Homo sapiens: one gene and its partners. The protein of the gene in region 2 interacts with the protein of the main gene of each other region in a biochemical or structural test. Each region holds a gene or a part of one and is shown on either strand. Other genes may lie near its edges.

What was found.
Region 1: the proteins of JADE1 (region 2) and UBE2H form a complex in vitro, tested with the Homo sapiens proteins (one study listed by BioGRID).
Region 3: the proteins of JADE1 (region 2) and KAT7 form a complex in vitro, tested with the Homo sapiens proteins (2 studies listed by BioGRID).

Annotation. Positions count from the first base shown.
Region 1 is NC_000007.14:129,830,826-129,837,985, reverse strand, and holds part of UBE2H (ubiquitin-conjugating enzyme E2 H), read left to right. Parts: intron 1-2,924; coding exon 2,925-3,049; 3' UTR 3,050-7,160. UniProt on the Homo sapiens protein: Accepts ubiquitin from the E1 complex and catalyzes its covalent attachment to other proteins. E2 ubiquitin conjugating enzyme that transfers ubiquitin to MAEA, a core component of the CTLH E3 ubiquitin-protein ligase complex.
Region 2 is NC_000004.12:128,805,356-128,812,814, reverse strand, and holds the start of JADE1 (protein Jade-1), read right to left. Parts: upstream 3,116-7,459; 5' UTR 2,938-3,115; intron 2,838-2,937; exon of another isoform or gene 2,442-2,837; coding exon of another isoform or gene 2,429-2,441; intron 1,546-2,428; exon of another isoform or gene 1,412-1,545; intron 1,131-1,411; exon of another isoform or gene 993-1,130; coding exon of another isoform or gene 974-992; intron 972-973; exon of another isoform or gene 841-971; intron 1-840.
Region 3 is NC_000017.11:49,819,681-49,826,680, reverse strand, and holds part of KAT7 (histone acetyltransferase KAT7), read right to left. Parts: intron 5,345-7,000; coding exon 5,255-5,344; intron 5,032-5,254; coding exon 4,891-5,031; intron 3,480-4,890; coding exon 3,386-3,479; intron 682-3,385; coding exon 535-681; intron 1-534. UniProt on the Homo sapiens protein: Catalytic subunit of histone acetyltransferase HBO1 complexes, which specifically mediate acetylation of histone H3 at 'Lys-14' (H3K14ac), thereby regulating various processes, such as gene transcription, protein ubiquitination, immune regulation, stem cell pluripotent and self-renewal maintenance and embryonic development.

The DNA of each region.
Region 1 (7,160 bases), on a different chromosome or scaffold from region 2:
CTAGTTCACATATGCATTCTGTCTCAACAATTTAGCAGTAGCCCTGTTTCAGTACATGTCTGCTATAGTCCCATTTACAAAAAGAACCGAGCCTACATTTATCTTAGAATGGCTCACTCCAGCGTACGGACCCCTAGCCTTCGGAAATGTTCATGTTGGCTATCATTTTGTCTTCCTTAGTAATCTCAGAAAATCATGGCCATCAGACCTGAGCTCACCCCCACTTCCTACTGTGCCTTGATATCTTCTCCCTTCCCTCCTGCATCTTTTCTTTGTTCCTAACTATAGGAAATAAATAAGAGACACCCTTCCTCATTTCTCAAACTCACTCCCACCACCAATCTGTGATCTTGTTCCCCCAACCCCCCGCCCCCTCCCAATGCAGTCTTCCTCCTCCACCCCATCAGAGGTCTCCCTGTTTCAGGAGCAGTGATCTGCTCCTGTGGGCTCTCTTAGGAGTCATGCTGTTTATTCCTTTTCATTTTCAAACTTCTTGCGTCCTCACCTTAAACTCCTCTAGTTTTTTTCCCCTCCTCTGCTTAATCTGTGCCCTCATTTCTTCCCAATCCTTTGGACTCTTCTCAAGTCCCATTTTGCTGGACCTTTCTGCAAGTGTTACATTTTACCCTCATCTTTCTGGAAACTTCTCATTCCATTTCCTAAATGTGGTCATTCACTTAGGACTCGGTCCCTGGGCTCCCTCTCTTCCTTTGTCATCCCTGAGGAGCTGTTTCACCTCTCACAGCTTCAGTCAGTCCCCTCCAGGGAGATGATTTCTGAATGTGTGTCTAGGCCTGGCCTCTCTCCCAAGCTGCTGCTGGACATTTCCATTTGTGTGGCAGTCACCACCAACCCAACACAGCTAACACAGTCAGTGTTCATATTTAGTTGGCGCTGTATTATAGTACATGTTTGAAAAAGTGTTTAAATATTGGATAGCCCGTAGCACTGGGCACCATTGGAGCTGTCTAAAGCTGTCACTTCCCTGCTCAAAACCCTTTGCTGGGTGACATCTTTGCCTGCCATTCAGGGCTCTCTGATACTGAGTGGAATCTACATCTTTGCCCTTACTCCTTTTTTTTTTTTTTTTTTTTTTTTTTTTTTTTGAGACGGAGTCTTGCCCTGTCGCCTAGGCTGGAGTGCAGTGGTGCGATCTCGGCCCACTGCAGCCTCTGCCTCCCGGGTTCAAGTGATTCTCCTTCCTCAGCCTCCCGAGTAGCTGGGATTACAGGCATGTGCCACCACATCCAGCTAGTTTTTTGTATTTTTGTAGAGATGGGGTTTCACCATGTTGGCCAGGCTGGTCTCGAAGTCCTAACCTCAGGTGATATACCCGCCTTGGCCTCCCAAAGTGCTGGGTTTACAGGCATGAGCCGCTGCACCTGGCCATAGTTCTCTCTTAAGGTTGTGTTTAAACATCCCAGCCACTTACTTTCAACAAAACAAAGCCTTTCCCTGGAGTGGCCTCTCCTATGCCATAGCTGGCAGGACTTGGGGGTCAGTGTGGCTGGGACTGCCTCGGCCGTTTTTCGTCCGTAACTGCTTCCCTCTGGTGACACTCAGCAGCTCCTTTTATCTTCCTCTGTTTCCTCCTCCTCATTGGTGACCTTGCTCTTCCTTTCTCTCTCTCAAAGGCCTTGTCCTAGTAAGTACTTAATATACATTTGTTTCCTTGAATACATTAAAGAGGGCTGATAGTATCAAATTCTAGTGTCAAAAAAAGGTCAATATTTATCTTCTACAAAGGAAGACGCAAAATAGTCAACCCATTAGAGGTTAAAAATAAAATTGTTAAAGTTTGAATAAATATTTCTCAATTAAGGTAAATTCCTACCTAATCATGGGCTACTTTAATCTCATCAAAATCATTAGCATAAAATTTTGTTATAATGAATTTGAAGGGCTCTAAGTCTCAAGTCTGCAAACCTTTTCTGTAAAGGACCACATTGGCCAGATGTGGCCTTTATCACACATTCTGTTTATTATTTTTTAAGACAGTTTTTAAAATATAAAAACATTCTTAGCTAGGCCCTGTGCTAGTTATTCAAATCTGGTAGGCCCATTTGGCCATTCAGCTTATCTTCCTATTGCAGTGAGTCCCCGCAACTCTATAGGAGGAAAAACAAAGCCACAAGGGTGTGTTTTTGTGTGGCTTGCATTTTGAATAGGTTTCTGTCATGTCTTTTCCTATTGTGTGGAGGCTGTTCACTTGAAAACAGTATGCACTTAGAGTTTTTAGGAACAAGTTTGTTTATTCAGCAGTTCTTAAAAGCCGTTTCAGCAGTCTTATTCAGCCTAGGGTTCCACCAAGGCTGTAGCAGCGGAAATCTACCTTCAGGTAAATTATACATGGAAAAACCACTCAGAGCCGAGTGGTGTCTCCGTATAGCAGCTTAGTCCTGAGCAGATTGAGCGATGGTTTTTGCCAGCTGCTTCAAAAACCTGACAGGCAGGATCTGTTTAGACTAAAATCGATTCCTAAAATAATAGACCTGGACTGACCGTAATTATGTAACTGCAGATCTAAAAATGATGAAGGATTTCCTTATAAATTACTATGGAATCATGACTGGTCCTATACTATCTGGGAGATGAAAGTAAAAAGAAAGCGTGGGGCTCCCATTTCCCTGGTCCCTGAAGAGTTCTTGGGGTGCTGCAGCACACACATTCCCCTGCAAGCTGAGCCTGCTGTGTTGCTCTTCCCAATACCCCTTTCCTCAGGGGGCAAAATGCAGAAACCCTGTCCCAAAGAAGTCTCCCTATGGGATTCTCCTTAGCTGTAGTGATCATGATTACTGTCATCTTTGTCCCCCCTGGTGTTCAAGGTAAGTTTGAACCTCCGCAGCCTTGCCAGCTTTTTGGGGTCGCCAAAGCACATGCCTGCCCACTCACTGCCCTTGTTGTCTTTCTCCCACCCCGTGCAGAGTACATCCAGAAATACGCCACGGAGGAGGCGCTGAAAGAACAGGAAGAGGGTACCGGGGACAGCTCATCGGAGAGCTCTATGTCTGACTTTTCCGAAGATGAGGCCCAGGATATGGAGTTGTAGTAGAAAAAGCACCTGCTTTTCAGAAAGACTATTATTTCCTAACCATGAGAAGCAGACTATAATATTCATATTTAAACAAAGCAATTTTTTTTATTACTAAACAAGGTTTTTATGAATAATAGCATTGATATATATATATTATATATCACCCTTTAGATCTTGATTTCTTGGTCATTTCTCAACCTGAGGTGCATAGCATATTCCCACATTCCATTTGGTAGCAATATGCGGTCTGAATGCATGCATTCATGAGTCCATGTGGCCAAGTCAGCCTGTGTGCTACTGAACTGTCGAAGGAAATAGCCGCTCTGATAGGTAGATGTGAGTAAAAAGAACAGGAAAAAATTGCTTCTTTTATTGGTTTCCAAAGAAACAAACCAAACCAACCAGCTCTTGGATGTGAAGATAAAATAGTGCTTTTTTGAAATGGAGAGGAAAAACTTGGGGAGGAAGAGGCCTGCTGTGGGGGCATCGGAGCCAGCCATGTAAGAATCAGAGCTGCTCCTTCCTGTGAATCCTAGGTGGCCCTATGTCTTCTGTGGAGTTACAGTATAAAGCAGGGAGCTAATTAAGAGTATTAAAACTTAAAACCATTTTTTGACTCTGATTTTAAGTACATTTTTATATGTCAGTTGCTGCCCTTCACACTACCAGGCCCTGCAGCCACAGTGTTCTGTTGGAGAAACTTGGGGAAGTGTTTTCTGAACCAGTTCTTTTTCTTGGGGTAGAGCGTGAAATCCAGACCTGTTTTTGAAAGGACAGCACAGGAGGAGAAAAGTGACTGGGACGATGCTTCCTCTCATCCAAAACACATGCAGAGTCACATCCTCATCCTAGTGTTTGGCAGTTTGAGACCGCTACCCTGAACTTAAGAGCTTTAAATATGAGGGTTGTGTTTCTGGGGGGGTTATTTTTTTGGTGTGTGTGTGTGTGTATTGTGCTTAGAAAGGTTGCAGATTTCATCTTCACCTACCAAGAGGCGGCCGCCTCCTTGGACAAGCCGCTCATGGACCATTAGACTTGAGAAGACGACCCACGTGGTGACTGCAAAGCCCTGGGTACTTGCCTTCATGTTCTGGTTTGGTTTTCCCTTTTTCTGCTGCTCTTGGCAGCAGCCTGGTCATCATCTGCTTGTGGGAGTGGGAAATGGGTATTTTAGACCCAACACAGGTTCTAAATTTAAAACAAATAATAATTGGAACAAATAAAGGTTCTTGTACCCAGAGTGATTCTACATGGGAAAAACAAACCAGCTTTTTTCAGAGAGTGACCGAATAGGAAGAAGGGATTCAGAAATATGATGTAGTAGAACATGCCCTGCAGGAAGAAAATGTTTTCTCTCCTGCGTATGTTAAGAGGAAATCAGTTTAAAATGCCTGCTAATCAAATGTCGACTCAGCTAACCATATGTCCAGGTTGCTGCAGAGTTTCTTTCAAATCTGAGTGTTGCCTGCTGAACTCGGAGGGGAGTTTGGAGAAATTTTAGACAGCAGCTCTGTGTTCTTTTTTTGCCGCAGCCAATAAGATAATAGCAGAATTAGCCAATCCTAAAACCTTCTAAAGACGATTTTTGAGCATCCCACTGGGATTATTTAATTTTTCTTTTTGACGTGTGTTTTTAGTTTAGAAGTGCTGTATTCCACAAGGTTTAAGTCAGTGAGGTTGGAAGATACCCTATCTTTTTTATTCAAAAAGCACAATCAATCTTTTGTTTGAAAATCTATATAAAGTACAACTTGCTTTTAGCATGATTATTTTCCTAAATAAAAAGACAAAGAATTTACTTACTTTATGTTAATTACGGGCATGAAGCAAAAGGTTTTCTTTAAAAAAAAAAAAAAGTGCAGTGATGTAGGGCTGTGGTTAGTTAACCGTACTGAGTTATCCATCTAGCATCTGTGGCTTGCTGGAAGGGTAGTATTAACTATTTAACATGTAATGGTGTACTTCACTCTTACCTAGCACGCTGTCTTCTCATTGCTTTGGGGGAGGGAGGGTCTCTCTGCTGGCACTGTCTAACTTGCTTACCTGCTGACTTTGCAGTTTGCTTGTGCTATGACATTTATTGTAGGTGCTATTTAGGGTAGGCTTAAAGTGCTGGGTGGTGATTTGAGTTCAAACAATAAAAAATTGTATTTTTTCAATATTGTATAAACAATAGTGTTCTAATTACCTTAAAAAAAAATAATGACCAGTTAAGAATTGCTTTTGATCTTGTCAAAAAACTGAATAGACCCCAGTTTCGGGAAGGTGTGTGAGCAGTGCCATGACTCTGCCCCTTACCTAATCCCACATCTCTCTAATGATAAGACATTGGCTCGCCTCTGACCAGAGCCCCAGCACCAGAGAGCGGAAGATGCAGAATTGTCAAATGACCTGCTGGGGGAGGTTGTAGGAGTTTAGCAGATTTGAGTGTGGCTGCAGAGAGAGAGAGTGTGTGTATGTGTGCACATGTGTGAGAGTGTGAGCGAGAGTGTGTGTGTGTCCATCTAAGTGTGTGTGATGAAGGTGGGATAAGGCTCCTCTGTTAGTGCTGGAAGCTCCTGTAATTGCCGCATGGATCCCACTGTGCCCTCTTGTTCTGTGCAAGTCTGTCCTGTCTGGGCACTAACCTTGGTCCCATGCATGTTTATGTTCTGGGTGGGGCTTTGCCTCTCCACTGGGAAACTGACTTTTGCTGGGTTGAACAGAGTCCCTTATGCTTTTTGTCCTCTCCCTGCGCCTGGGAGAGGTGGGAGTAGGAGCCCAAACACACAGGTACAGAAAGATCTGGAAGAAGGCCTGGCAGTGAATCCAAGGACTCTGGGCCCCCAACAATAGATGGTAGCGTAAGTCTGGAGCAGCGGTGTTTCACCACCAAATGCCTTTCCAGGCTGCCCTTCCAACACTCAGGAGAGCATCCAGATCCCTGGGCAGAGGCTCTACATTCTTGGCTTTAGAGGTGGTGGCAGCGGCAGCAGGTCAGAGCCACTTCTGGCGGTTTCCCTCCCCTTTTTAGTGCCCATAGTTTTTGGATCCTCCCTTGAGTTTTACCAGCACAAGCCATTCTTTGCCCCTGTTCACATAACTGAGCTCAAGCTCTTGCCAAACACCAACAAGCAAGATGGTTGCAACCTGGCAACATTGAATCCACCACCCTTGGGCTCCCTCTGGAAGCCCCAGCACCGGGGGGCTTTTGGGCACAGGGTCAGTGGTAGCCATCTTAGACACTGACATTTGGCTTTGTCGTCAATTTCATCACCCTCCTTGAGGTTACTGTGCAGTTTCAACCAGCATTTTATCCTAGTGAGGTCATTATCAGGAGTTGCCATATCATCTCTCCAGTACCTAACATTTCTCATCCACTTCAAAAGCTGTTCTGACTGCCAGCTGGCTGATCTAAGCTCCTGAGGAATGTCTCCTCTCAAAGGAATTTTTCCCTCCAAAGGCCCCCTGAAGTCCTAGTTGGCATTGGCCTGGCACATGCTTTATGTTAGGCCTCCCGTTGGGATGGCTGAGAATCATGAAAGACAGATCCTCCGCTAGCCTCTGTGGGTCAAGTTTCTGGACACCAAGTCTCTGGGAACTAGTGTTTGATTTTAAATGGCATGTGGCCCTTCCTTGTTTCAGTGACTTAGAAAAGTAAAAGCCATTTAAAAAAGTTAGCAAGATTTTTTATCGACTTCCCAACTGGGCTTCCAGCCTTGTTGAATGAAATCATCTATCTCTGATTGGGCGCAACGAACTGCATTTCTTTGGACTTCTGAATCCATGTTTGTGCTTTCTCTGGCCCGTGAACACCTCGGCGATTCTGTTAGGGATGGGATGAGTGGGAGGAAGCCCTTTGAGAAGGGGGAGCCGGCCCTGTCATGCGCAGGTTTTCCACTCATCTGAGGAAGAGCCAGGGCTCTGAATTTAGCCTAACACTCATCTTGGCTGTGGGCTTGGGAAGAAATGGCCATTATTTACAGATTGTATTTGGTACATATTGTGTGATACTTGAAAAGATAAAAGGGACTGCCAGCCCCTAACTGAAATCTGAAGCTTTTTATCGCTTATTTTTCCTCGCCCTGTCTCCTCCCTTCCACCTTTCTCCTTGCATTGTGATGATCTAGTAGGCACGTCTGTCAAC
Region 2 (7,459 bases):
CGACAGCCCCTCGCCCCTGCCGAAGTAAGGCAGGGCGCCAGCCCTCTCGTTACTAGAAGGCAAGCTAAAGCTCCTTTTAAACGGTCTCCGGATGACGACGCATTCCTAACGGGTTTCGAAGGCATGTTTAAATCGCCCGCTTTTTTGTTTGCTCTCAGCATTCACCGGCGCCGGGACTGCGGCCGCCCCCACCCGCTTGGGGTGGGAAACCTGGGGCCAGCGGAGCCTGGCGCGGGAGGAATCCTGGGGCGAGGGGAGACCCGGGACGCGCCAAGCCGGGGTTGAGGACTCGAGAATAAGGAGCTCTAGTGGGAGGGTGGCGGAGTGAGAGGGGACGTGAGAAGGCTAAGGATCCCAGCAAGGGGGGCACCCCGGGGTTGTGGGGGAGCTCGGCCGCCGCCCCGCAGCGGCGAACGCTCCGCGCGGCTCCCGCCGCCCGCCGGGGAATGCGCAGGGCCGCGGTTCCGCGCGGCGCCGACCCCTCCCTCTCTCCCAATCCTCCTCCTCCTCCTCCTCCCGAGGCGACAGAAACAACAGCGCGGGAGGAGGGGAAAGTAACTCCCGGCACCTCCGCCGGAATTAGCCCCGGTGCAGTGATGACACCTTCTCGTGGCGCAACCAAGCCCCGCTCCCTCCGCAGCGGCGTCCCCGCCGCCGCCGCCCTCTCCATTTGAAAGTGGCCACCCCCCGCCGCGGCAGCTCCTCCCGCCCCGCCGCCGCCAGCTGCACCAATCCGCTCGGCCCCAGTTGCAAATCAAACGCTCCCTCGCGTCCAGAAGCCACTTGCGCCGCTGGAAACGGCCGCGCCGTCCCCCTCCCCGAGTCCCTCCGGGGCGGCACCTTCGGGCTGGGGCGGGCGCGCCGGCGAGAAACGGTTTTAAGATGGGAGCGGCAGCGGCGGCGAGGAGCTCCGAGCGGGCTCGGCTCCCGCTCCCGCTCCCGCCCCCAGACAGTTCTGGAAACTGTGTATCACCTCTGTCACAGGAAGCCATCCGGCGAGGAAGGCGGCGCGGAACCAACAAACAAACGCCTGCGGCCGCCCGCCGGAACCGGCGCGGGGACCGCGTCGGGCTTCGGGCCGTTCCCGGGGCGGGGGCGCAGCGGCCACCCCCGCGCCGCGGGCTTTGTGCGGGGCGGGCGCGGCGGGCCGGGCGTCCCCGCCCCCGCAACCCCCCACCCCGGCCCGGGCGGCGCAGCTGGGACCGTTAGGTGACGCTCCGGCCGCAGCGGAGAAGCAGCGCCTCGGCCGCCGCCCGCCCCCATTTCCACACTGGGCCGCCTCTCCTCAAACACCAGAGGCGGGCTACAAAAGTTGGCCCCGGGGCCACCCAGCACCTGCCCACGTGCCGCGGAGGCTCGCTCCCGAGTCTCCCCCGGTTCCCTCCCCCGCCGCCCTCGGCCGCCAGGTCACCTATTACCGGTGGGAGGGGAGAGAGGCTGCTATTTAAACGCCCGCGGAAGTTGAGGCACCCCCACTGGCGGGTGCCGTGCACCTGCCTCCCGCCGCCGCGCTCCGCCACTTTGAGCAGCAGCCGCGTCCTCAGCCCCGCCTCCTGCCCGAAGGCGGGCGGGGGGGAGCGGGAAGGAGGTGGAAGGGATCGAATTTCTCCAGCAAATGGGACCGTTCCGACAGGATTCGGTTCCCCGGTCAACATTCCACATTCCATCCCTCTCCCGCATTTGCAAGCCAATGCCGAGCAACCCGGAAAGCCTGCTGGCTACCGAACAACAGCCCCCAACTCGCAAACACAGACTCACAGGCACAAGACACGTGCACTGAAGGGCTCTGCAACTTGCAGTCCCGGGGTACACACTACACGTTCATTTAAGGAAGCAAGGAGACCAAGAGACCCCACCCCCACAATTTGCAGATGGTGCCAAAGGTTGCAATTTGCAATCCCCTTTAAGTTCACGATTAATCGGTACTTTGCTCTACCAACGCCAACTCCTACCCCATTTCATCGATTAAGGGGTTTTACACTTTACAAGCAGTCGCGCTGTAAGTAAAAGATCTGATCACTGGAAGCCCAGTTCGGAAGAATCTAATTGCCAAACTGTCCCTCCACCCCCACCCCCACCCCCCTCTCACTGCCCTTGAATTGATGCAATGAATATTTTGGACATGTGGTGACGCGGTGACAAGAGCCAGGGCTGCGGCCACCACACACAGATGTACCTACGCACACCTATGTTTGGACAAATACAGTCCCACCACACACACGGTCTCACACACTCTGGATTCATATATGTACGCGAACCTGCGTTCTGCCATTGCCATCTGTCTACCAAGTTGCTACTATGCTTTCCACTTTCATGCAGCCTAATGCACTTTGGCTTTCTAAAAAAAAAAAAAAAAAAAAAAAACCTATAAACTAAAGCCAACTTAAACTGGGCTTCTGCTCCTAAACGCGTTTAATTGATGATTCACCTGAAAACCGCATGTTCTTCGCAAATCCAAAAGAAGAAATAGCTCTAAGTCTTCAGCCCCCCAAATTTGAAAAAAAAAATCATAATAAAACTTACTGATCCAACATAGATCAATTCTCAGGATCCAAAAATCATCCTCTCCTCCTCCTCCGGCCCCCGCCCCGGCAATGCCCAAGTTACTGGTGGGATAGTAACGCTGCGCTCAGCGGCTGCCTCCCTCCCTCCTCGCTACAGATCGAGAACCCAATCTTTTGGCGCCATATTAATGACGTATTATATTATTTCCACTAGGCAGCGACCTTCGGCATTAAATTACTCCCGAGAACTCCCGAGCAAAGCAACAAAACCATCAAATATGGCTGAGCCTCTCGGCTCGTCCTGCAGCCGCCGCCGCCGCCGCCGCCGTCGCCGCCGCGGGACCGGGACGCGCACACGGACCCACACGCGGACACGCGCGGACACACGCGCGGCGCGCCCACCCCGCGCGCCCCCCGCGGCCCGCGCGCGTACCTGCTGCGGAGGGGTTCGGCCGAGGCGCTGGGCTGGGCGCCGCTCGCTCGCTCGGAGCTGCATGAGTTCGGGCCGCGGCGGGCGGGGAGCCGGGCGGGCCCCTGCTCTCGCCGGCGCGCACACACCGGGCACTCGCGCACGGAGGCACTCTCGGTCTGGCGTTTGGCTTGTTATGGAGGAAGGACTATGTGAATCAAACTCATTTCTGGGTCACTGCTGCCACAGGGGGGAGCACTTTAATCCCTTGCCAAAACGAGAGGGTGGGGACGGGAGGGCGGAGGGAGCATGCGGGGAGCCCGCGGCGCTGGGGCTCGGTCCCTCGTTAACTCTTCGCAGCCCTAGCCGCAGCCGGCTCAGCCTGCGCCAGTGGGGGCTCGCAAAGAACGGCACTGTTCAGCTCTTAGTCTCTTTCCTTACTTCACCCACCTTGTGAGCCTAGAAATTCTTGAGGTGTCTCCAAGCAAGTGGGTTTTTAAATTAGCCCCTTCAAACTGCTGTCCCAGTTTCAACTCTTGTCTGACATCTAGAAATGGATTCTTTCAGAATAGTTTAAAATTACGTAGATTAAAATATGGCTATTAAGATGTGTCATTTGGGTGAAAGGTTTTATTTTTAGGCTGAGTGGCAAAATAGTTGTTTGTAGTAACAGTTTTAGGGAGTTGCACATTAGGATGACATTTTTAAATAGAGAGAATCCAATTCTGAATAACATCTTTACCTAAATTTGTATGGAAGTGATCATTGCAAATGAGCATTAATTCATTAGAAGATATTATTTATAAATTGACACCACTTTATGTTACACATTACTACAGAATTGGACATCTTCTCCCAAATATGAGGAGTGAGCCTAATGCTAAAACTAGAATTGCAGACTAGTATCAGATCAGTCATCGGAGATTCATTTGGGGGTATTTATGTGTAAAAAGGAGTGGTTACTGATTTTCTGCAGAAGACAAGCTTGCTTTTTCATATAGAGGGCAACATACTTCTTTCATGGATTCATCTAGGGAAATAGAGGGGTATATGACATTCAACTTCAATAAGAAAAAAGTACGGATTAAAAACTCCCATTCAGGCCGGGCGCGGTGGCTCACGCCTGTAATCCCAGCACTTTGGGAGGCCTAGGTGGGCGGATCACCTGAGGTCGGGAGTTCAAGACCAGCCTGACCAACATGGATAAACCCTGTCTCTACTAAAAAATACAAAATTAGCCGGGCATGGTGGTACATGCCTGTAACCCCAGCTACTGGGGAGGCTGAGGCAGGAGAATCGCTTGAACCCGGGAGGTGGAGGTTGTGATGAGCCGATAATGCGCCATTGTGGTCCAGCCTGGGCAATAAGAGCGAAACTCCGTCTCAAATAAATAAATAAATAAATAGGAACAGTGATCACTAATTACAAAATTGAATATCGAACCCAAAAGGCATATGTGTCCACCGGAAGAATCTTTCTGAATATATCAGGTTTGATTTCATGTAATCCCACACCAGCCCAACTACCCACATCCAGACCCACATCCAGAACGTTATAATCTGATAAATGCGACAAAACAAAACTAATTGAGCCTTTCAGTTATTTTTCAGAAAACAAAGTAAGCCAGTGGAAATCCTAAGTACTGTATATGTCCTCTCCTGTTTCGCTAATGAAGAGTAGAAAGACTCCCTGCCAGTCCTATTCATGTGTTCACTTAATCCTGTTCAAAGCGATCACACATGTAAAGCACTGTGTTAACTATCATTATTACTATTCTTAGTATTGCACTTGTTATTGTTATTTTTACTGGTTCACCTCGCACATACTCTCTGTAGAAGTTAAAGTACACAGGCTTTGTAGCCAGACATGGCTGGATCTGGCTCTATCAGTTAGCAGTTTGTGTGCCTGTGGGATAAAAGAACTTTATCTGAGCCTCAGTTTCTTCCCTGGTAATAAAATTAAGTTAACAGCTGGCCCCTAACCTGAAGGGTTGTTAAGAGGAATCAGGCAACCTCATAACAGTTCAGGAGTAGAGGCCCTGGCAGTAGGAGGTTGTCCACTCCCTCGGCCATCACTCAACTCCTTCTTGGTTTTCTCTCCATCAAAAATTGCAACTTTTCTAAATTCCAAACAGCCTTACTTCACGCATTCATGTTAAGAAAATTTTTGTCGACCGGGCGCGGTGGCTCATGCCTGTAATCCCAGCACTTTGGGAGGCAGAGGCGGGCGGATCACGAGGTCAGGAGATCCAGACCATCCTGGCTAACACGGTGAAACCCCGTCTCTACTAAAAATACAAAAAATTAGCCGGGTGTGGTGGCGGGCGCCTGTAGTCCCAGCTGCTGGGGAGGCTGAGGCAGGAGAATGGCGTGAACCCGGCAGGAGGAGCTTGCAGTGTGCCGAGATCACGCCACTGCACTGTAGCCTGGGCGACAGAGCGAGACTCTGTCTCAAAAAAAAAATTTTTTTAACTCACATTTGCTGCTTACTCTTTTATTTGCTTTTTCTATCAAAAACATCAGGCACCAACGAAAGTATTGAATAAAATGGATGACAAAAATAAAGGGATAAAATGGCACACAAACTCCCCACACTGACACATTGAACATGAGTGAAGGTGCCATGTACAGAGTCTCAATTATGCCGTGGCTTCAGAATACTCATCCACTGAAACAGTGCTATGTGCTATAAATAGCCCTGGACAAGAAGTCAGGAGACTCCCACCAACTCCCAATATGACTCTTTGGGCTTTAGTTTCCCCACTGAGATGATAGGAAAAATAATGCCTAAGGCCCCTTTCTCTTTAACATTCAGTCATTTCTGATTTTCTTACCAAACTTAGAAACGTGATGATTATTTGAAGAAATGGCGGACAACTTGAATCCATAAGGAACATGTAAAAATATTTTGTCATCAATGATCAGCAGTTGGCATTTCTTAAATAATAGGTGTCTCTTGCCATCAGACCACAAAGGAAACTCCTATACAACCTATTTCTAAAATGGGAAAGGCAATGATATGGTTTGCCTTGCGGCAGCACAGATAATACAGCCTAGAATAAGAAGTACTAAGCTGGCAATTAGGAAAGCGAGTTTCTGATTCCACTCTGTCACTTACTGTCTTACCTTGCCAAATCATTCCGGATCATCATTTCCTAGTCTCTGGAATAGTTCTTTTTAATTCACACCTTATTATCAGAGATGAAAAGACATTCAACAAAATAGCTACAAGGTACTCAGTGTAATAGAAATATCAAGATTCTTGTCTTTCCTGTTCGTGGTGATAATTACAATTCTATATATCCTGTACATTCTGCTGTAGTCATAAACAGTTTAATTATTTTCTTCCATAATAATGGGTTTTTATGAAATAGAAATTTGGATATTTATATTCATATTCCTGATTTTGAAACCAGACTTGATTAAACCTCTGAATGTTTACTTAGTCATTTCATCTACTTCTCTGTAGGTAAAGAATTATAAGGCCTTGATAAGAGATTCAGAATTGTTCATATTTGAAATGAAGGGATGCATACACTAAAGTCCTGTATTATCTCATTCCTTTAGGGAAATGAGCAAGAAATTCTTACTGGCAAATACCACTGTCAGTTGGTATACATTCCAACGAGATAATTTTTTTTTTTTTCAAGATCAGGGTCTCACTCTGCCACCCAGGCTGGAGTTCAGTGGTCCCAACATGGCTCAGTGCAGCCTCCACCTCCAGGCCTCAAGCAATTCCCCCACCTCAGCCTCCAAAGTAGCTGGGAACACAGGCATGAACCACCACACCTGACTAATTTTTCATATTTTTTGTAGAGACAGGATTTCACCGTGTTTCCCAGACTGGTCTCAAACTCCTGAGCTCAAGCGATCCGCCCTCCTCGCTCTCCCAAAGTGCTGGGATAATAGGCGTGAGCCACTGCGCCTGCACCCAGAGAGAAGAATTTTTTTTTTTTTTACTGTAAAAGGGCAATCTTGGATAAAATGGGTTGTATCCTAAAAGTTTATTTGCATGTACTTTAATTTTTTTGGAATTTTGTGCCAAAAATGTCTTGTTACTAAAGAGGGCTTAGATTGTTGTTTTTAAAAATAATTCTAATAACTAAATGATAAAAAATAACTTTTTATTTTTCAACCAGGCGTGGTGGCTCACACCTGTATTCCCAGCACTTTGGGAGGCTGAGGCGGGTGGATCACTTGAGGTCAGGAGTTTGAGACCAGCCTGATCAATATAGTGAAAACCCATCTCTACTAAATATAAAAATTCGCTGGGCGCGGTGGCTCACGCCTGTAATCCCAGCACTTTGGGAGGCCAAGGCAGGCGGATCACAAGGTCAAGCGTTCAAGACCAGCCTGGCCAACATGGTGAAACCCCGTCTCTACTAAAAATACAAAAATTAGCTGGGCGTGGTGGTGCATACCTGTCATCCCAGCTACTTGGTAAGCTGAGGCAGAAGAATTGCTTGAACCCGGGAGGCGGAGTTTGCAGTGAGCTGAGATCTTGCCGCTCTACTCCAGCCTGGGTGACAGACCGAGACTCCATCTCA
Region 3 (7,000 bases), on a different chromosome or scaffold from region 2:
AAGTACTGACAACCTGGCCAAAGTGCAGGTTCCCACCCCTTTGCCCCCAACCAAGGTCTACTTTCCCTTAAAGGAAATCCAAATGGACAGAATCTTCTGTACTCAACCCAATCTGTTTAGAAGGAGTTTACAAAGTATTCATTTGACCAGTCCAAATAACCACAAAAGGATATTACAGCAAGAAGCTACTCTTGGCCCCTTAGAAATCAGGATCAAATATAGATCAAACTAAATTGTTCCACCCTTGCATAAATACACAGGGATGTCTTTCTCAGAAAGATGAACCAAACGATCTGAAGTTTTGCTTCTTGACTTTTATAAGAATTAAAGTGTTGGCAACTCTGGATTTGAGAAGCCAATTAATAACCATTCCCAGGGGCCAAATGCTTTGGATTCCTAGGCAGCTTTAGTGAGGGTCTCCGCAGTGGTCCATATTCAGTGGGCCTTCCGTTCTCACATTCAGGGGAAACACAATACCCAGTAGAGTTAACTTCTTGGGTAACAATCAACCATTCCAAGGAGTCAAAAACCAACCTTTGATAGAAATCTCTTTGCCTTGAAAATTATGCAGGTAGCGGAGAAGTACTTCTTTCCAGTAACTGCGATAGCTTATAAGCCCCAGATCTGAGAGTGGACGTTCTGGGGAGCCAACTTTTTCTTCGACTTTGGAAAGCAAATAACCTGCCAGGGAACAAATACAGACTTTTTCTAGCAACACTCGATCTTATCCTAATAGCAAAAAACTGTGTGCCAACATGGAAGAAGGTTTAAGAAGCACAGTCCACTCCATTAGGATTTAGTCATTCAATGGAATACTGTGTGGTTAACTATAGTATACTGCCTTTGTATAAACAAAAGGGGAAGAATGTGTATTTGCATTTACATGACACAGGAGTCCCCTCTTATTCACAGGGAATGTGTTCCAAAACTCCCAGTGGAGGCCCAAAACTGTGGGTAGTACCAAATCCTATATATACTATGTATTTTCCTATCAACACATATCTATGCTACAGTTTAACTTATAAATTAAGAACAGGAAGAGAGTAATAGTAAAACAGAACAATTATAACAATATACTGTAATAAAAGTTATGTGAAGGTTGTCTGTCTCTCAAAATATCTTATTGTACTGTACTCACCTATTTTTGGACCGCAGTTGACTACAGGTAATTGAAACTGCAGAAAGTGAAATGGCAGATAAGGAGGGCACTACTGTAATAGGCACTAAAAGAACTCTGGAAGCCTTCACCATTATTTTGATAATGAATCTCTGTAGGTGTGTGTTGGAAACAAGGGAGATGAGAAACAAAAATGTGAAGCCACTTCACTACCTAGTTTTTAAGTATTTTTTAAATCTTTGAATGGTAAGAACAGATTAGCTCAGTACCACCTATGAGATAGTGCGGGGTGTAAAAAACCCAAATGATGAAGCCTCTAGTTGTAAAGTCTAAACACCTAACATTCAATTTATACAAAATATATAAAACAACACTATGGAGATGCAGTGTGCAAAGTTCATAATCTGGGGAACCCTTTTAGACAACTAACCTGCTTTCTTCAACAAAAACACAGCAAGAAAAAAATGATGGGAGTGGAAAGTTTTAGACTAAAAGTGAATTATGAGCCACATTTCTCAATCCCACTATCAATTCTACCTGGATCTGAGTATTAAAAAAATAAAAATAAAAAAAAGAACAAAATCACACCAGGGAAATTTGAATATCACAATTTATGACATGAAGGACTTTTTTTTTTAAGGTGTAATAGACCTTATCTTTTAGAGATACCAAAATAATGGCAAGTGAAAATGTAGGTAAAACAAGATTAGCCCCCCAAAAAACGGTAATTACTGAAGCTGGGTGATGGGTATAGAAGCATTTATTATACTTTTGTTAATGCTTAAAAATTTCTATAAAATCAAGTTTATAAGAACAGTGTTACCTATTCAAAGATATATAGTTCCCCTCTTATGTCACTTCCCAGTTCATCTCTTCTCAGGTGACTTAAAAATGAAAGAAGGTGGCCGGGCAAGGTGGCTCACGCCTGTAATTCCAGCACTCTGGGAGGCTGAGGTGGGCGGATCACCTGAGCTCGGGAGTTCGAGACCAGCCTGACCAACATGGAGAAACTCCGTCTCCACTAAAAAAATACAAAATTAGCTGGGCGTGGTGGCACATGCCTGTAATCCCAGCTACTCGTGAGGCTGAGGCAGTAGAATTGCCTGAACCCGGGAGACGGAGGTTGCAGTGAGCCAACATTGGGCCATTGTGCTCCAGCCTGGGCAACAAGAGCAAAATTCCGTCTCAAAAAAGAAAGAAAGAAAGAAAGAAGGCTTGGAAGGCTAATTCTAGGAATTCCAATTTTGATTACAATATACCCTGTCCTATGACAGTGGACATCAAATATAGAATAACACACAGTAGAGTCTTGTTATTCACAGCAGTTATGTTTTATAAAGTCACTGAGAACCTGAATTAGTGAATATTGAACCACTACTCCTACGGGAAATACAGGGAGGGTTAGGTTCCTGCAAGCCTCTGGTCACATATTGGTCAACCATCAATACATAAACTTATTTTATGTTTCTGTTTAAAAATGCCTTATTTAATATACACTGTTGATATCATTAACATTGAACTCACTGCCAGCAACTCTCTAATTCACCTGAAGAAAGCTACCTAACCCCTGTAAGGTACCCCAGGTATTCCTGAGATTAGGAACACCAGACACATCAGTACTACTCATAGGGGCCATTTAAAATCAACAGAAGGCGAAAACCATGTGGCATTCCCAGACTGAAAATGAACTTGTTTACAGTGTAAGAGCTGAAAACTCTGAAGTCAGCTGGGAATGTGTGCATCCATGACTCTTACTTTTTGCTGCTCTGTGCATGTTCACGAATGACCACAAAAATGTTAAGATTGATTTTGGGGTTACAAATAAAATTTAGTGAGTAAGCAAATTCACAAAGACAGAATCCACAATTAATGAGGGCAGAGTATATTATGCACAGGGTCCATTGGGTACATGGATTACCTCTAGACAAGTCCCTACAAAAGTGAAATCCCTAGCATCAAGGACCAGATTTTAAGCCTCATGCATGTATGTGCTGTTTAAAAGTCTCAAACTGGGATAATCCTAAAGAGCTTACTTTATCATCCTCTGTACCTCCTACTCATTAAGGAGGAGTCCTGTACTCCTTCAATGTTCAATGTGTATTAGGCAGAATGACAATGTTCAGGTTTTTCCTACTTGTTCATTCATTTACTAAATATCCATGTACCTTCACTATATTCCAGGAATTGCAGAGACCACAGGACAAAAAGACAAACAATATTCACATGGTCCCTGCCTTGTGGAACTAATGACTTAGCAGTTTCACTTACTGAAATCAATAAGCATCTTGCCATAGCCCTGTCTCATGTACTGAGGCATAGTAAGGATACAGGAGACGTTGTAGTTGAGGAATGAATTCTTTTCCTAAAATCAAGAGCAAACAGATGAACACGTCATGAGGATTTGAAACCAAAGGTTTCAGCACTTCCACAGATGCAAAATAAGGCTGCTTGCAAAACATCTGGCTAACCAGTCCCAAGGAGTGGCTGCCAGGCTCACAGCTGTTATAACCACACCCTTTATCATGGCCAAAGCCATTAATCATCCCAGGATTTCCCTAGTTGAGACCTCCAGTGTCATTTTAAGGAGGCTGACTCTGGGCTCCTGACAGCCACAGAGTAGGGCAAGAAGTTTAAGACTGCTGACTCAGTATATAGAAGCCCACTTTAAACGCAATTTTTGAAAAGGAGCTGCCTACTGGAAGAGAAGGGAAGGAAACACCACTGTAAGTCCCCATTCTGCAAAGGGATTAAAAAAAAAATCACATTGAATCAAATCAAAATGTGTGATTCCACTTGTAGGAAACGTCCAAAATAGGGAAATTTATAGAGAAAGAAGAACTGAGAGGGATTGAGTAGAAATAGGAGTGATTGCTATCAATTTCTTTTCAGGATAATGCAAACTGGGTTGATTGCACAACTCTGTGAATACACTATAAACCACTAAATTGTACCCTTTCAGTGCGTGAATTTATGGTATATGAATTATATTTCAATAAAGTTGTTATACTAAAAGTCATAAACTTTTATGACTTAGGCCGGGCGCAATGGCTCACACCTGTAATCCTAGCACTTTAGGAGGCTAAGGCGAGTGGATTACTTGAGGTCAGGAGTTCGAGACCAGCCTGGCCAACATGGTAAAACACCATCTCTACTAAAATCACACAAAAAATTAGCTGGGCGTGGTGGCAGGCGCCTGTTATCCCAGCTACTCAGGAGGCTGAGGCAGGAGGGTCACTTGAACCTGGGAGGCAGAGGGTGCAGTGAGTCAAGGTCATACCTCTGTACTCCAGCCTGGGCAACAGAGTGAGACTCTGTCAGAAAAAAAAAAAAAATCTGGCCTTGGGTCTTTAAAAGGCGCAGTAGTGTTATCACTGAAGGCACTGTGCTAGAAGGAGCCCAGCTAAACAATCAGGCAAAAAGAGTATATTCCTGGTTTTAAGCTAATAACATAGAGGCAGGCAAAGCCAGCAGAACTGGTTTGACTACAAGATGTGGGCTTGTGAGTTACTAGGGAGGGCTCTGGCCAGTTATTAATAGGCAGCTCCAGTCCACAATTCTAGAAATGAATGAACCAGAAGCTTTTAATAAAAACTGCATTTTCATTAAACAATCTTTGATACATGGGTTTGCCTTTTTTTTTTTTTTAATTTAAGGAAGGGGTGTCATCATTGCCCAGAGTACAGCTTCTTCCTGTCAGTGATTTGAGCCCCCAACTGCGAACATGGATCACCCTGCTCTGGCCATTGGCTTCTTAATCTCCAGATCCTGCTTACCTTAGAAAAATATCCAATCAGGTGACAGCCAGTGTTGTCCGCCTCTGTCATAACATAGAACAGGAAGGGCTCCACATCATAATATAATGTCTTGTGGTCCAGAAAAAGTTTGGCCAACAGGCACAGGTTTTGGCAGTAGATCTGGAAGCAGAGAAACAGAGTTCATGTGTGGGCCACTGATTCCTAAACAGATAAAGGCCTAAAATTCACAAACATACCATAATTATTAATGAAACACATTGTGTATTTTGGCAAGAGAAGAGTTCTATGTCCTTCACAAGGTGTGATGGAGAAAAAACATATGCCTTCTGAAACCTGTGAATATACAACATTTCAACTCCTTTCTAAAGTCACCACTTTTTACCTTGTTTTTCTTGCCATCCACTTCAAACACAGAGATTGAACCTTTGCGATATATCTCATCACCAGGTGGGTGTTTCCACACACATTTGGCCTGCAAGACAATGAAATTCACATCAGGGAACCAAAGCCTCCCAACAAGACTGCTCCTCAAAAGGGAAAAGGAATGACAGGTCAAATGTGGTTAACTGAGCTACCGGACAGTTGGACAAGCTGAGAACATACAGCAAAACAGAGATTTTATTTCCATAAAACAAAGGCTTCCAAAGTCATTTGAATATATTTATGACACTTTTATAGCAATCTGGAACAAGTATTCTGGATTACATTCTGGCACTACTTTAGCCCAGGAGATTAAAATCACCCACTACATAAAGGCCAAATAAATAACAATACGCTTGCTTATTACCAAATGCCTCAAGCCAACAGGAAATTCTTAAGCAGCTTATTTCCAGCAGCTTAGGGTGGCTAAGTACTTTACTCTCACCTTTACCCATAACTTCTCATTACCACCTAACCATGATGGCCTTCTTTGTTCAGATTAGAAAACCCACTCACAATGATAAAAACCATGTACCACTACCTGTCTGCCCTTCTCCCCTGCAAGTGCATTCCCTTTGTTATATAAGGAAATTAAGAGAAAGTCCTGTGGCAAAAAAAGAAAAAAAAAAAAAAAAAAAAAAGGCAAGCAGCCTAGCTGAGCAGCAGGAAGCTAGGGTCACTTGGCCACAAGGGAGCACAAAGTACCCCCTTTTCCTCACCCTCAAGTGCTTACTGTTTTAATGCAGCCAGCCAGCCAGCCATCTGCTGTTAGGTGAATTCTTCAAAAGGTTTACATTTTAAAATGTTTAAGGCCTGATGCGGTGGCTCACGCCTGTAATCCCAGCACTTTGGGAGGCTGAGGTGGGCAGATCACCTGAGGTCAGGAGTTTGACAGCAGCCTGGCCAACATGGTGAAACCCCGTCTCTACTAAAAATACAAATATTAGCCAGGTGTGGCAGCGGGGGCCTGTAATCCCAGCTACTCTGGAGGCTGAGGCAGAAGAATCCGGGAGGTGGAGGCTGCAGTGAGCCGACATTGCACCACTGCACTCCAGCCTAAGTGACAGAGCGAGACTCTGTCTCAAAAAAAAAAAAGAAAAAAGTGTTTAAAAAGTATAGACGTATAAAAAAAAGTTTTTTTTTTTGAGATAGGGTGTCACTCTGTCACCCAGGCTGAAATAGCACGATCATAGCTCACTGCAGCCTCGAACTCCTGGGCTCAAAAGATCCTCCCATGTAGCTAAGATTATAGGCGCATGGCGCCATGCCTGGTTAGTTAATTTTTCAAAAGGGTTTTGAAGCAACAGAGTCTCACTATTTTGCCCAGGCTGGTCTCAAATTCCTGGCCTCAAGCAATCCTCCCACTTCAGCCTCCCAAAGTGCTGGGATTACAGGTATGAGCCACCGCACCTGGCCCATGAAACACTTTCTATTAAGCAAATTTACTGCAACTCTTTTTGTCAACTCAAGAAGCATGTTCCAATTTGTCATATGTAAATCCAAATATTTATTAACTGGAATCCATCCAAGAAAATTCCATCTGTAGTTTGTTCCTATCTCTACCCCTTTACTCATGCTGGCTCTTCCCAACAATAACCAAACTCATGTAACAATTATTATTTGTTCAGAAACAGAAGCCAAGCCAAAGGAAGATCATTTCATTTCAGTGATCACACCTGAAGCAACGGGAATAAGAACAGGCATGGAA